Linked DNA regions of Homo sapiens: region 2 is linked to region 1. Evidence: fine-mapped expression QTL. A gene starts in region 1. The other region holds a variant in brackets. All regions are shown on one strand. Distances are from middle to middle.

Region 1 (5,305 bases):
ACACGTTGTTATGCTATTATTTCTAAATTCACTGTCTTCAGAATTCTACTCTGTAAACAGAAAAAAAAACAGCATGGCAGAGCAGAAAGAACATTGGAAGAGAGCTCAGGAGGCGAGATTCCACTCCTGCCCCCGCTCCACTATTAACCAATTCCAAAACCCAGACCAGCTTGGAGCCTTTCGGAAGGATTTCCTCATCTGTAGTTGGATGAGGTGATTTGCCCCTTCCGACTCTCAATACAGTCCCACTGTGCGACTGTCTTCACAGCTTTGGGGAGGTGCTATTGAGTGCCTGCTGTACACCACCCACTGAGTGTTGTCCATTCTACAATTCACTTTTAATTTCCTAAAGAATCTTACCTTCTGCTATGTTAATTCCACTCAGCCAGTAACAACTCAACCAATGACTTAGTAAGATGCCAAATGCCCCACTCCTTCTCTTTCCTCACTTCCTCTTACTCACTTCCAAGATGGCTCTCCTCCCTGCCAACCCCATAACTCACCCTTCTCTCTCCAGAAAGCTCGCTCATCTATTAACCATCCCCACAAGTCCTCCTCCCAGGCAGCATCCAACCCGTATCAGTGGGGACAAACAGCGTTCCGAATGCACGGGCTGGCATTAAGGCCTTCTCTTGCCCTGAGGATGACCCACCCGCTGGAGCTCTGAGACTCCTGGGGCACTGGTCCGTAACGCCTCTCTTGGCTCAGTTTCTCCCTAGCTAGGTCAGATGCCAAGGTTATTGCTAAGTTTGTTACTTGCTGGAGAAGACATCAAAGTTGATGTCCCAAAAAGAACAGGGAGGGCCGCGCACGGTGGCTCACACCTGTAATCCCAGCACTTTGGGAGGCTGAGGTGGGCGGATCACTTGAGGTCAGGAATTTGAGACCAGCCTGACCAACATGGTGAAACCCTGTCTCTACTACAAATACAAAAAAGTTAGCTGGGCACAGTGGCGCGTGCCTGTAGTCTCAGCTACTCGGGAGGCTGAGGCAGGAGAATCGCTTGAACCCAGGAGGCGGAGGTTGCAGTGAGCTGAGATGGCACCACTGCACTCCAGCCTGGGCAACAGAGCAAGACTCTGTCTCAAAACAAAACAAACCCCAAAAAACAAAAACAAACAAAAAAACAGTGAGAAACGAAGAAAAGAAAATCAAGAGAGAGAGAAGGGTCTTAAGACGATGAAAAGACAAGGAGAAGGGCCTGATTCAAAGGAGAGTGAGTGGGAGACGCTGAGCAAGCAGCGGGAAGAGGAGACGAGAGGAGAGGAAGCGACCCACACCCAGCGCTCCACAGGCGGCCAAGACAAGTCAAGCCCCAAAGTTCGGCCCCAACTTTGCGAGAAGTAGTTAAGTCTGAAGCCAGGGGGCCTCCCCGCAAGAGGGTGAAAGCAGCCCCCTCTCCACCACCTCTCCCGCTCCGGGACCGCAGCTCCAGGCCAGCACCCGAGGGTCTCCCTGGAGGGCGCCCCTCCCTGCACGCCCCGGGCCCGCCCCTGGGGACGCCTCTGCGCGCCTTGGCCCGCGGGGAGGCCGAGCCTGCGACGCCGCCGAGCTTGGCAGCGAGGCCCTCCCCCTAGCCCGGGTCCGACCCTGGCCTCACCCCGACTCCGACCCCCGACCCCGGCCTTACGTGTTGTCCTGGTTGAAGTTGGCGAAGAGCAGCTGGCCGGCGCCGGCCTCCCCGCTCTGGCTCGCCAGGTTCATGGCTGGGCGCGCGGCGAGTGGGCCCGGCCGGGGAGGGCGCGCGCGCGAGGGCGGGTCAGGCTGCACTCAGGGTCGGCGCCGGGCCCCGCTCGCCGCCTCGGTCGCCGCCACTCGCCACCCTGGGATCAACCGCCGCCTCATCCCGTCCCCGCTCTTGTTTATGCTCCAGAGCCGGGGCACCCGGTACGCCTGCGCGGCCCCGCCCCCGCGACGCACGGCCTCGAGCGGCGCAGTCGCACTGCGGAGGCCCCGCCCTCTCACCGCCTGCCTGGGCTTGGGTTCCGGTGGATCACGCAGGCGTGGGGACGCGTCGGGGCGCGCTGGGCCTGGCTGAGGGCGAGCGGCGGCCGCTCATGCGCATGGGGCAGAGCTGGCGGGAGTCTGTTTTCTGCGTACCCTCCTCTTAATAACACTCAATGGCCAGGCACGGTGGCCTGTAATCCCAGCATTTTGGGAGGCCAAGGCGGGCGGATCACCTAAGATCAGAAGTTCGAGACCAGCCTGGCCAACATGGTGAAACCCCGTCTCTACTAAAAATACAAGAAAAATTAGCCGGGCTTGGTGGTGTACGCCTGTAATCCCAGCTACTCGGGAGGCTGAGGCAAGATAATCGCTTGAACCCAGGAGGCGGAGATTGCAGTGAGCCGAGATCATGCCACTGCAATCCATCCAGCCTGGGCCATAGAGCGAGACTCTGTCTCAAACAACAACAAAAACAAAAACAAAAACACCCCAATGGGCCCTCCATGTGCCAATCACTGTGCTGAATGCTTCTGCGCATTACCTTATCATTTTATTATTTTGAAAGACAAGGTCTCGCTCTGTTGCCTAGGCTGGAGTGCAGAGGCTCAATCACAGCTCACTGCAGCCTCAAACTCAGGCTCAAGCGATCCTCCCACCTTAGCCTCCCAAGTAGCTGGGACCACAAATGCATGCCACCACACCCTGCTAACTTTTAAGTTTTTTGTAGAGATGGGGTGGGGGCGGGGGGGGTCTTACTCTGTTGCCTAGGCTGGTCTCGCACTCCTGGCCTCAAGTGATGCTCCCACCTCGGCCTCCCAAAGTACTGGGATTACAGATGTGAGCCACTGTGCCCAGCCACATTATCTTATTTGATGCCCATTACAATCCTAAGTAGAGAATAGTATATCTTAATTTTACAGATTTGAAAATCGAGGCTCAGAAATAATTATTAGCCAAGTGCTAGATCTGAGACTGGAAACGTCCTGTTTCTCCAAGGTCCATACTGTCTGGGTTCCTGGGACAGAATCGTCCCTTAAATTTATTCATTCATTCAACAGTATTTAGGACGCACCTCTCATGTGAACTAAATAGGCCTCCTCCTTTCCCTCAGAGAAGTTATAATGGGGAGATATTTAAATATAAATAGAAGGCCAGGTGTGGTGGCTCTTACCTGTAATCCCAGCACTTTGGGAGGCTGAGGCGGGTGGATCACCTGAGGTCGGGAGTTCCAGACCAGCCTGGCTAACATGGTGAAACCCCGTCTCTACTAAAAGTACAAAAGTTAGCTGGGTATGGTGGTGGGCACCTGTAATCTCAGCTACTAGGGAGGCTGAGGTGGGAGAATTGCTTGAGCCCCACAGGTGGAGGTTGCAGTGAGCCGAGATTGCACCTCTGCACTCCAGCCTGGACGGACGACAGAGTGAGACTCCATCTAAAAAGTAAAATAAAATAGGCTGGGCATGGTGACTCACGCCTGTAACCCCAGCACTTTGGGAGGCTGAGGCAGGTGGATCACCTGAGGTCATGAGTTTGAGACTAGCCTGCCCAACATGGTGAAACCCTGTCTCTAGGAAAAATGTAAAATATTAGCCAGTTGTGGTGGCACGGCCCTGTAATCCCAGCTACTCAGGAGACTGAGATGGGAGAATTGCTTGAACCCAGGAGGTGAAGGCTGCAGTGAGCCGAGATCATGCCACTGCACTCCAGCCTGGGCGACACAGTGAGACTCCATCTCAAAAAATAAAATAAATAAATATAATTAGAAACTCGGGGGTACAATGAGCGAATATATATATATATATATATATATATATATTTTTTTTTTTTTTTTTTTTTTTTTTGAGACGGAATTTCACCTTCTTGACCAGGCTGGAGTGCGATGGCGCAATCTCGGCTCACTGCAACGTCCACCTTCCGGGTTCAAGTGATTCTCCTGCCTCAGCCTCCCGAGTAGCTGGGATTACAGGTGTGCACCATCACGCCCAGTTAATTTTTGTATGTTTAGTGGAGACGGGATTTCTCCATGTTGGTCACGCTGGTCTCGAACTTCCGACCTCAGGTAATCTGCCTGCCTCGGCCTCCCAAAGTGCTGGGATTACAGGCATGAGCCACTGTGCCTGACCATGAATGCATATATAGAAGTCACACAACCTATATTTAAGGGACAGGGACTGTGCTATTGAGAAGGCTCCTGGAAGAGATGAGACCTGAAGTTTGAGTAACTAGTCTAAGGGCATGAAAACACTCTATATGGGAAGGGCTTGAGGATGAGGGTGTGACCTGTCCAAAGAACTCTATGTTCAGAGTGGAAAGGCAGACACAAGGCAAGATTTGGCAGGAGAGACAGGAGGTGGCCAGATCAAGCTGCGTATTGTTACGCAAGGAACTGACCATTATCTGATTATTGTCCATAAGAGCAATGGTCTGCCGTTAAAGACAGGCAGGAAAGTGGAACGATCTAATGAGTGCTTACAGAAGTTAATTCTAATTATAGGGTCAAGAACGCATTGGAAATCATTGAGGAAAGGATGGTCTTTTCAATAAAAGGAATAAGTACCCCTACCTCACACCATATTCAAAAATTAATTTGAGATGGATTACAGTCCTAGATGTGAGAGGTAAAAACAATAGAATTTCTAGAAGGAAACGAGAATGCCTTCATGATTTTGGGATAAACAAAGTAGTCTAAACAGGTACTTTAAAGCGGATGTGTTGGCTCATGCCTGTAATCCCAACACTTTGGGAGGCTGAGGCAGGCGGATTGCTTGAGTCCAGGAGTTTGAAACCAGACTAGGCAACATGGGGAAACCCGGTCTCTACAAAAATACAAAAATTAGCTGGGCGTGGTGGTGTGCGCCTGTGGTCCCAGCTCCTTCAGAGGCTAAGGCGGGAGGATGGCTTGAGCCTGGGAGTTCAAGCCTGCAGTGAGCTATGACCGCGCCACTACACTCCAGCCTGGGTGACAGAGCAAGATCCTGTCTCAAAACAAAACAAGTTCTTTAAAAAGTAGTAACCACAGGCCGGGCGCGGTGGCTCACGCCTGTAATCCAGCATGTTGGGAGGCCAAGACAGGCAGATCACGAGGTCAGGAGATCGAGACCATCCTGGCTGACATGGCGAAACCCCGTCTCTACTAAAAATACAAAAAATTAGCCGGGTGTGGTGGCTGGTGCCTGTGGTCCCAGCTACTCAAGAGGCTGAGGCAGGAGAATGGCGTGAACCCGGGAGGTGGAGGTTGCAGTGAGCTGAGATCGCACCACTGCACTCCAGCCTGGGTGACAGAGCGAGACTCTGTCTCAAAAGAAAAAAAGTAGTAACCACAAAATGAGAGATTGGCCTTCATCAACATTGAGAAGAA
Region 2 (5,377 bases), 38 kb after region 1:
TAAAAAAAAAAAAAAAAAAAAGGGGCAGGGGTCTGTTGGTGAAAAATCATTGGCAGCCACCAGGCAGTCAGGAGCCTCCATGGCTTCTATTTTTGGGGGAATGAAGAAATTGATCTTGGTGGCTCACACCCGCAGTCCTAGCACTTTGGGAGTCTGAGGCAGGAGGATCGCTTGAAGCCCGGAATGCAAGACCAGCCTGGGCAACAGAGTGAAACCTTGCCTCTACAAAAGATACAAAAATTAGCCAGGCATGGTGGTGTGCGCCTGTAGTCCCAGATACTTGGTAGGCTGGGGTGGAAGGATCTCTTGAGTCCAGAAAGTTGAGGCTGCAGTGAGCTTTGACCACACCACTGCACTCCAGCCTCAGCAACAGAGTGAGACCCTGCCTCTGAAAAGGAAAACATTGTAATATAAAAATATATTATTTATATATAATATATAATATGTATTATAGGCCCAGTGTGACGGCTCATGCCTATAATCCCAGCACTTTGGGAGGCTGAAGGACACAGATCACTCGAGGTTAGAAGTTCAAGACCAGCCTGGCCAACATGGTGAAACCCCTTCTCTATTAAAAATATTAAAAAAGGGCCAGGCACGGTGGCTCACACCTGTAATCCCAGTACCTTGGGAGGTCGAGGTGGGCAGATCACCAGGTCAAGAGATTGAGACCATCCTGGCCAACATGGTGAAACCTCATGTCTACTAAAATTACAAAAATCAGCTGGGTATGGTGGCATGTGACTGTAGTCCCAGCTATTTGGGAGGCTGAGGCAGGAAAATCACCAGAACCTGGGAGGCAGAGGTTGCAATGAGCCAAGATTGGGCCACTGCACTCCAGCCTGGGTGACAGAGCGAGACTCTGTCTCAAAGAAACAAAACAAAAAATCAGCCAGGCATGGTGACACATGTCTGTAATCCTACCTACTTGGGAGGCTGAGGTGGGGAGATCACTTGAACCTGGGAGGCAGAGGCTGCAGTGAGCCCAGATTGCCCCAGTGCACTCCAGCTTGGGTGACAGAGCGAGACTGTCTCAAAAAAAAAAAAAAAAAAAAAAAAAAGTCACCGGGTGCAGTGGCTCATGCCTGTAATCCCAGCACTTTGGGAGGCCGAGGTGGGTGGATCACAAGGTCAGGAGATCAAGACCATCCTGGCTTACATGATGAAACCCCGTCTCTACTAAAAATACAAAAAATTAGCCAGGCGTGGTGGCGGGTGCCTGTAGTCCCAGCTACTCGGGAGGCTGAGGCAGGACAATGGCATGAACCCGGGAGGCGGAGCTTGCAGTGAGCCAAGATCGAGCCACTGCACTCCAGCCTGGGTGACAGAGCAACGCTCTGTCTCAAAAAAAAAAAAAGATATCATCTGTTACATATTATATATAATATAAACTATATATTTATAATATGAACTATATGATATAAAAATCTTTATAAAGACATATTTATATAATATATAGTATATAATATATAATACAAACCATATTATATAAAATATATTGTAATTTATATATAAATAGTTTTGCATTTATGTATTTTTATATTACATAAAAATATATTTATATTACATATAAAATATATTTATGCAATATATTACATATAAATAACATTTTATATTACATATATATAATTATATATATTTTTTTCTGAGACAGAGTCTTACTCTGTCACCCAGGCTGGAGCGCAATGGTATGATCTCAGCTCGCTGCAGCCTCCACCTCCCGGGTCAAGCGAGTCTCCTGCCTCAGCCTCCAGAGTAGCTGGGATTATAGGCACCTGCCACCACACCTAGGTAATTTTTCTATTTTTAGTAGAGACGAGGTTTCACCATGTTGGCCAGGCTGGTCTCAAACTCCTGACCTCAGGTGATCCACCCACCTTGGCCTTCCAAAGTGCTGAGATTACAGGCGTGAGCCACCATGCCTGGCCTATTTTATATTTATATTTTATATATCCATATTTTTATATTTTACATACAAATATATATTTTTATGTTATATATATTCATTATATATTATATATATAAAATATCAAACCATGGAGACAGTGTTAAGCATCTTCCCAGTACATGGCCCTGATAAAATGCCATTTTTCCTGTTGCTATTTTTTCCCAGTGGAGACCTGGAAGCAGGATGGCACAGAAGACCCGGAATGAGCCAGTGCGGTTAACAAGAGGAAGCACATGAATTGGAAAGCTCAGTGAGCTCTTGTTTAGATAATAGGATCCATATATCACTAGTGATATGTTCCTTGATTCTCTTGTGATCCATAGATTCCTTCTCCCTCTCTTCCTTTCCTCCGTCCCTCTCTCTGTTGGCATTTTATTTGTAGAAAAAAGTGTAGAATTTCTTACAGCCTGGATTTTGCAGATTGTCTCATTGTGGTGTCATTTGACATATTTTTCTGCTGCCCTTTTATGTCCTGTAATTTGTTGATTAGATCAAGAGGCTTAGACTCAAGTTTTTTTTTTTTTTTTTTCCCCAGGATTACTCATAGGTGATGTCGTGTACAGCCATATAGATGGACAGGATGTCTGGTTTTCTTATTTTTTTTTTTTCAAAAAGATGTCAGCAGTCATTGGTGATCATTACCTAAGGGTGTTTTTGTTTGTTTGTTTGTGTTTGAGATGGAGT[C/G]TTGCTCTGTCGCCCAGGCTGGAGTGCAGGGGCGCGATCTTGGCTCACTGCAAGCTCCGCCTCTTGGATTCACGCCATTGTCCCGAGTAGCTGGGACTACAGGCGCCTGCCAACACACCCGGCTAATTTTTTGTATTTTTAGTAGAGACGGGGTTTCACCGTGTTAGCCAGGATTGTCTCGATCTCCTGACCTCGTGATCCACCCGTCTTGGCCTCCCAAAGTGCTGGGATTACAGGCGTGAGAAAAAAAAAGTTTTTTAGAGATGATGTCTTGCCATGTTGCCCAGGCTGGTCTTGAACTGGGCTCAATCGATCCTCCCACCGTAGGCTCCCAAAGTGCTGGAATTACAGGTGTGAACCACCAAGCCCAGCTAGAGCACTCATTTAGGAGTCTAGTTTTCTGACTCCTTCGGAGTCACATGGATTTTTTTAATGAGAAATAATCATTGGTGATTTTTTTTTTTTTTTGAGATAGTCTCACTCTGTTGCCCAGGCTGTGGATTAGTGGCATGATCTTGGCTCACTGCAACTTCCACCTTCTGAGTTCGAGCAATCCTTCTGCCTCAGCCTCCCAAGTAGCTAGCACTACAGACAGGTGTGCACCACCACACCTGGCAAATTTTTTTTTTTTTTTTTTTGGAGACAGAGTCTTGCTCTCTTGCCAGGCTGGAGTGCAGTGGTGTGATCTTGGCTCACTGCAACCTCTGCCTCCTGGGTTCAAGCGATTCTCCTGTCTCAGCCTCCTGAATAGCTGGGACTACAGGTGCGCACCACCACACCCAGCTAATTTTTGCATTTTTAGTAGAGACGGGGTTTCACCGTGTTGGCCAGGGTGGTCTTGATCTCTTGACCTCAGGATCCACCTGCCTCGGCCTCCCAAAGTGCTGGATTACAGGCATGAGCCACTACTTCCGACAAATTTTTGTATTTTTTAGTAGAGACAGGGTTTCACCATGTTGCCCAGGCTGGTCTTGAACTCCTGGCCTCAAGTGATCCACCCACCTCAGCCTTCCAAAATGCTGGGATTACAGATATGAGCCACCACGTTCGGCTTTATCAGTAATTTTTAGAGCACTTTTATTTTGGGAGCTCTATTACAGCAGTTTTATCCATGTCCTAAATAATATAGTTGCATACGTTCTTAGCTCTCATTTTGTAATTAGAGTTGGAATATTCCCCTTCCCATTCATTTTACAGGAGTTTTCATGTTATCTTGATATTAGAAGATGATAGCTGTAAGAGTTTTATTTTCTCTCTTACTAGGGAAGATAGGAAAAATAATAAAGATTTTATCTTTGGAAAAATAAACAAGTGATAGACAAATCTCTGGTGACACTAATCAATATAAAAGAGAAATTATTGGAAAACTCTCTAAAAATAGATATAGGAATTTAATTTTTTTTGCTACTGTTTCATAGCAACCATGAATTTATTGGGAAGGAAAACATTTTCAACCATTTATTATTACTTTTTCTTTTCTTTTTTTTTTTTTTGAGAGGGAGTCTCAATTTGTTGCCCAAGCTAGAGTGCAGTGGCGCTGTCTCTCCTTACTGCAAACTCTGCCTCCTGGGTTCAAGCAATTCTCCTGCCTCAGCTTTCCTAGTAGCTGGGATTACAGATGCCTGCCACCACACCCAGCTAATTTTTGTATTTTAGTAGAGACAGGGTTTCACCATGTTGGCCAGGCTGGTCTTGAACTCCTGACCTTGTGGTCCGCCCGCCTTGGCCTCTCAAAGTGCTGGGATTACAGGCATGAGCCCCCTCCCCCAGCCTATTATTACTTTTTTTTTTTTTGAGACAGGGTCTCGCTCTGCTGGTCAGGTTGGAGTGCAGTGGTGTGATCATAGCTCACTGCAGCCTCAAGCTCCCAGGTTCACGCGATCCTCCTACCTTGGCCTCCCAAAGTGCTGGGATTACAGGTGGGAGCCACTGTACTAGCCTTTGTACCATAATAAAATAAAGTCAGCCCTTCATATTTGGAGGGGATTGGTTCCAGGACACAACCCCTTTGTATTAGTTCATTCTCATACTGCTATGAAGAACTACCTGAGACTGGGTAATTTATAAAGAAAAGAGGTCTAATTGACTCACAGTTCTGCAGCCTGTACAGGAAGCGTGGCTGGGGAGGCCTCAGGAAACTGACAGTCATGGCGGAAGGCAAAGGGGAAGCAGGAATGTCTTACATGGCCAGAGCAGGAGGAAGAGAGAGAAAGACGGGAGGTGCTGCACACTTTTAAACAACCAGCTCTCATGATAAGTCACTCACTCTCACGAGTACAGCACGAAAGGGGAAACCTACCCCCATGATCCAATCGCCTCCCACCAGACCCACCTCCAACACTGGGGATTATAATTTTTTTTTTTTTTTTTTTTCCTGAGATGGAGTCTTGCTTTGTTGCCCAGGCTGGAGTGCAGTGGTGCAATCTCAGCTCACTGCAGCCTCTGCCTCCCGGCTTCAAGCAGTTCTCCTGCCTCAGCCTCCCAAGTAGCTTGGATTACAGGCATGTACCACCATGTCCGGCTAATCTTTGTTTTTTTAGTAGAGACGGAGTTTCATCATGTTGGCCAGGGTGGTCTCGAACTCCTGACCTCAGGTGATCCACCTGCCTCGGCCTCCCAAAGTGCTGGGATTACAGGTGTGAGCCAGCGCGGCCAGCCGGGGATTATAATTTAACATGAAATTTGGGCGGGGACACAGACCCAAACCATATCACCCTCATACCCAAATCTGCCATACTCAAATCC

The links. PIP is the estimated chance that this variant, and not a neighbour inherited with it, causes the effect.
Region 2: its variant is fine-mapped to the expression of WIPI2 in whole blood (TOPMed, PIP above 0.99).

Annotation. Positions count from the first base shown.
Region 1 is chr7:5,186,819-5,192,123 of GRCh38, reverse strand. WIPI2 (WD repeat domain, phosphoinositide interacting 2) reads right to left here and starts at 1,891. Exons shown (of 13, transcript NM_015610.4): 1 at 1,631-1,891. The coding sequence starts at 1,704. RefSeq lists silencers at 1,397-1,446, 1,457-2,106, 4,780-4,909.
Region 2 is chr7:5,148,959-5,154,335 of GRCh38, reverse strand. No RefSeq gene overlaps it. Among named protein-coding and RNA genes, the nearest start is that of WIPI2, 39 kb to the left of the region's middle. The variant C/G (reference allele first, on the strand shown) is at 2,633.